Regions from separate parts of the Homo sapiens genome. Here region 1 is linked to region 2. Evidence: fine-mapped expression QTL. Tissue or cell type: fibroblasts. Region 2 holds a variant in brackets; the other region holds the start of a gene. All regions are shown on one strand. Distances are from middle to middle.

Region 1 (2,686 bases), 93 kb after region 2:
GATAACTAACGCAGCTGTACTGCTTAATAATTTTGTCACTGCAACAAAGAAAGAGCTGATCTAATTAAAATACAACTGAACTTGAAGAAGCCCTATGTTTTTACCTTTTTTTCTCTAGGCAGTAATAATGAGCACTAGCAGCAAAAATCCTTCCTTTTGGAGTCCTAAGAAATTATTCTAAATTTTTACCTTTCATCATCAAGTCCATATCTATATCCTATCTTGGATCCAATACATTATGCAACTGATGTATTGAAATAGCAGCAGCCTCAGTTTCCAAGTCTCCCTGATGCTTCAGTCTGTGCCCTCTAGTATCTAGGGCAACATATTTGTCATGTGGAATATGTCCAATGCATTTAGCTGGTAAATTTAGAATAAATCGCAAGAACAATCGCCTGGGGCCCTCAAAAAGGCCACATACATCTACAGAATATTATTTAGGAAAGTATAACTTAAGGGTGAAAACAGCTGGTGAAACTGCTCTGTAGCTGAAAGCTGAGAAGCTTCTCCATTTTAGTACTCTCATTTAGATTTTAAGCATCTTTTTGGGGACTGTTAAAAAGGTAGTCTGTGGAAAGCACACGGTGCAACTGTGACTTTGCACATGTCACATATGTTTCAAGTTTAAAATGGGGTTATTATTTTTTTCTTATCTTCAGGTGCTAATGCATCCAAATGGGTGATAGATACGGAGAGAATCTATTTTTTGAAAGTTGGTTGAATTTAGAAATTACTATGTGAATCAAGTATTAATGTATTCAATATCCATTTGCACTCCTGAGTTTATTTAGATACTTTACGTAAAAGTGAAGGGGCAGGAATATAGGCAGGGTATTTAATGTGAAGCTCTCTCCCGTTAATAAAGATCAATTACCCCAAGATTTGCAAAAAAAAAAAAAGAGAGAGAAAAAGAAAGAAATGTGCGAGAAGTTTCCTAAAATTTAAGGTAGGGGGAACGGAGTTTGCAAACTCCTTTCACCCCGATGGGCATTAGCAGACACCTCCGGTTTTAGAAAAGCGTTACAAACAGTTCTTCCACGATGCTGCCCACCAAAGCCGTAATGTGCCCAGACCCCAGAGCTCCTAGAGCATTTCACTCAGGGTAATGCTGGCTTTGGGGCGGTCAAGGCAGGGGCGTGTCAGCTCAGGATGAAGAGGCAGGAAGCACAGACGGGCCGCGACTGGCTTCCTGACTGCGCCGCGCCTTGGGAAAGTCCCCGCCCTCCAAAGCTCTCGATTGGGATCACCTTGGGACTCGGCTTCCTTGTGAACCGTTTCCAGCGATTCAGCCCCATCCTTTTCTTTGAGAAGGACCTTCCCTGAGGCGCCAGGAGCATTTTCCAAGTTCGAGCCCGAACCTCGGCCAAAGCTGCAGCAACCGCCCTTCTGCCCGGGCTGCCTCCGGGTCACGCTGGGAATTGTAGTTCCTCCGCCCGCAAGGAAAGCAGGCATAGGACACCGTCGAACCACCACTCCCACGAGGCTCTGCGCAGGCCGCTCGCGTTGGCTCAGTTACCATAGCAACGGCAGAGGTCCCTCGCTCTTGCCGTCATCAAGGCTCGCTTGAATGTCGGCTTTGCTTTTTTTCTGGCGCCCAGTGATGACGCAGTACTCCCTGATTGGCTCTGCACTGGAGGCAGTGATTTTGGGGCAGAGAATTTTGCAACACGTGGTAGTGAACTGTGAGGAGTTTGAGGGGTCTGAAGACTGAAAGAGTCGAATGGTTTGTTGGCAGGTAAGTGCCCCTTTGCCCTGCTGGTGTGGGAGCTGCTAGAGATGGATGAGTCACGTCGCGTCCAGACGCTTCCTGGTTGTGTTGCAGTAACGGTGATTGTACTCCCGCCATGTCTCCTCTGCTTCCCTTTTCAGGGTGTCCTGGTGGATTGGTTTCTGTAAGTTCAGATTCTCATAAATCGTGTGAGCGTCGCCGACACCTCTGAGATAAAAGGGCCCCTTTCGACTAGCCTCTGCTGAAAGGTAGAGTTTTCAGGAAGTTTTTATTCCGAACTGCCCATGGGAGGGTGGGACCGTCTTCAATCTCTGAGCCAGGTGCCTAGGGAGGTCTGGGGCCATGGAGATGGCCCATGGAGCAAAGATAAATCCAGGCTTATTGGCTTAGCCGAGGTGTTTCCAGAGACAGCCCATTTAGGGGTGATAAATGGGCTTATAAAGCAGAGTAAAGATTTAGAACAGGAGTTTTGAATTCAACTACTTTGTGGCTATATGACCCTAGGCAACTTGTTTAATAACTCAGAGACCCTGTTTTCTCATGCAAAATGGGGACGATAATACCTGAATCACTGGAGTGTTGTAATGATTAAAAATAAATGTATGTGAAGCATTCTGCCAGGAAATGTAAACTAAAGTTGATTTGAAATTGGTGAAAATGAAGTTAGGGAAGCTATGCCCTCGGACTGTTGCAGCGATCCTAGGACCAGCTCTGTAACTGGTCTGTCTGAAAGGCGGTTGAATAAATTGTGCTCATACAAACTATGCAGTACCACGAAGTAGTTTTTTTCAAAAGGGTAAGTTAGCTTTATGTCTCTTCTTCAGGAAAGACGTCTAATGTTTATTCTTGAGAGAAAAGCAAATTGCAGAGAAGTGCATATATTATAGTATAATATGTTTCCATTTTTGTAAAAGCAAACCCTGACCAAAACACTCCCTCCCATATGCAAGTATGTTT
Region 2 (2,686 bases):
GTGAGACTTAAGGGTCTTTTTAACCTAGGTAAGTTTATATGACCTAACTTAATTGTAGCCATATTCTGGTACCTTCCATTTTGAAAAGTAGAGGTTGCTTAAGCAAGCAATGGATAATAAGAGACTTTTCCTGAGGCACCTGTTTGGAATCTGGTTTTCTCAGCGGCAGCTTGACATGTGCACCCTTTTGTATTAAACACTGCAAGGGTGATGCAGGGGAGCAGGAAAGCCATCCTAAACTCACTACTGAGTACGATTCAGTATGTTCCTGTGGATGTCTGCTGTGACTAATATAAATTTCTTGCAGAATCAGCTACACTTAATTATGTTGCTGATAGACAAGCATCCACGCTTCAGCTGGCACTAAGTGTTTTCATTGTAGGATCAGCAGCAGGTTAAAGACTGAACGGTTAGTGAAGACAAATGTCTTAAGAGGCTGCGATGTCTAGGTTGGGCTTGTGACTTCTTAGTGGCCTAGCCTTCTTGATGGCACCTTGAAAGTGAACTTCTAGAAATCTACATTTAAAAGGCAAAGCTTTAAAAGCAGAGCTAGTCTATTCTAGTTACTGATGCAACTAAAATTCTGTATTTCTTAAGATGGAGCCACTGACGAGATGTCACAGTATAGAGCCTGCAGTCTCAACTCATTGTGATCCTAATGGTCTGGGTGATTGGATGGTTTGAGTTGTTAGGGATTTTGAGTTTTTCATTTTATTGCATATCTGGGTTGGATGTTAGACTAAAGGAAACCCAGGAATATTTACCTGGTGTTACATTTAATATTTAATGTAACTGGTCTAGCAACATTAAGGGGGATTTCTGAAGCCAACTCCGGAGGCTGTGGGCTGCACATTTTGCACTGTTTTTATATACTTGTATTCATATCCTCTTATCACCTCAGACTCAGACACAAGGCCTTTTACATGGAAATTTTACAAATTACTTCCATTTATGTAAAATAACGTCCTGTGACCAAGTTGTTTAAATGGAAAATAAAGTGCTTTCTTTAAGGAAAATAGCTGGTGTTTCTTGGAGTGTCTCCTGAAGTCTTCTGATTTCTGAAAACCCTGCATTATACCTGTGCTGCCTCTGTGGCTCCCTCAATGTCTCTATCCTGTGGCCCTGTCCCTAGCCCTAAACTGTTATGTTCCCGGTGGCAATTTCTCCAGTTTTGTGGGTCAGGGATACTGCTTGTTGGGGCATTATGTTAACAGTAACATTTTGAAACATACTTTCATGATAGTCCAGCAAAAAACAGCATCAAAACTATTTCCATTGTATCTCTTTAGAAGGCTCTGTATTCGGTAAAAAGTCTAGCTGGCGCCATTGGAATATGGGCTGCTAAAGACTCAATTTCTAGTTGATGTTTGAGGTGAGGCAAAAATAAAGCTAA[G/A]GTAGAAAACTTAAGCTTTGTGGGATTTATTTATGCGCCTGGCATGTTGACTTAAGGAACTCAACCTTATGTACAGGCTTGGCATTTAAAGAAAACTGGTGGCTGGGTGTGGTGGCTCACTCCTGTAATCTCAGCACTTTGGGAGGCTGAGAGGATCACTTGAGCCCAGGAGTTCAAGACTAGCCTGGGCAACATGGTGAAACTCCATCTCTACCAAAAAAAAAAAAAAAAAAAAAAAAAGTTAGCTGGGCATGTAATCCCAGCTATCTGAGAGGCTGAGGTGGGAGGATCACCTGAGTCTGAGAGGTCCAGGATTCAGTGAGCCATAGTCAGGCCACTCTACCTCCAGCCTGAAGTACAGTGACAGAGTGAGACCCTGTCTCAAAACAAAAAAAACACAGAACAAACAAAATAATAAAATTGGTATTTCATTTCCGGGTGCTAATATCAGCCAGTATTTTGTAAATGTACTGTAGTTAGGTTTAAACTGTTAGTGATTTTGATGGAAAGTGATGTATTATGAATTACTTTTAGTTACATTTTCTTTAGTGGCCATTCATCTTGAAAAACACAGGTTTTTTTTTTTTTTAAATGACAACTGTATAATCCTATTAAAGGAAAAGCTGTGTGGGAACAGCCATGTCGTAGAAGAAATAAAGTTCAATTCAAGGTGTTTGGTCATATCACACATCCTCCGTGATAAAAGTATCTTAAGTCGTGTAGCAGGTGGTACAGCTAGATATCCTTTCTAGGAAGTATGAGACAGTAACAAGAACATTCACTTAAAAAACCACAGAATTTTATTTTGTCAACTCAAATTTTCAGCACACCAAATAAGAGTAATCATCTCAGGACTGCACAGGACTTTCTCATTTTACCATATGCATTTATGGACTACTTGAATTTGTTATATAATAAATGTGTATTTTATAATGAAAAATTATTTTTCTAGCAGGTAATTCTCTAACACAATTCATAGAAGAGAGCATTTTATCAGTCTTTATAGCATCTTAAAGATGAAAACATTCTTTGAATTCAAGATAGGTATCTCAATATCTAGATCAAACTGAGCTGAGTACTAGAAGACAAACTGAGTGTATTATTCAGCAGTTGCAGGTGGGAGCATGAACAGATAATTTAATGAATTGCTGGACTGTCATGATAGAGCTATTACCTTTTGGAATGTCCTTCATGCTTATCAAGGTGCACGGAAGAGAAGCATCTCTGGTGCCTCAGTTTCTCTGAAATCAGGATAAGCTGCTGTCCTCTGCAGCAGCTGTGTAGAGAACCTTT

Evidence for each region. PIP is the estimated chance that this variant, and not a neighbour inherited with it, causes the effect.
Region 1: it holds the start of QTRT2, and the variant in region 2 is fine-mapped to the expression of QTRT2 in fibroblasts (GTEx, PIP 0.91).

The regions. Positions count from the first base shown.
Region 1 is chr3:114,055,130-114,057,815 of GRCh38, forward strand. QTRT2 (queuine tRNA-ribosyltransferase accessory subunit 2) reads left to right here and starts at 1,608. Exons shown (of 10, transcript NM_024638.4): 1 at 1,608-1,735; 2 at 1,870-1,977. It overlaps CCDC191 (coiled-coil domain containing 191), which reads right to left and starts at 1,397. Exons shown (of 17, transcript NM_020817.2): 1 at 1,248-1,397. The coding sequence starts at 1,337. RefSeq lists an enhancer at 1,139-1,548.
Region 2 is chr3:113,961,967-113,964,652 of GRCh38, forward strand. It overlaps ZDHHC23 (zDHHC palmitoyltransferase 23), which reads left to right. Exons shown (of 5, transcript NM_001320466.2): 5 at 1-1,407. It overlaps CCDC191 (coiled-coil domain containing 191), which reads right to left. Exons shown (of 17, transcript NM_020817.2): 17 at 2,171-2,686. Among named protein-coding and RNA genes, the nearest start is that of ZDHHC23, 15 kb to the left of the region's middle. The variant G/A (reference allele first, on the strand shown) is at 1,394.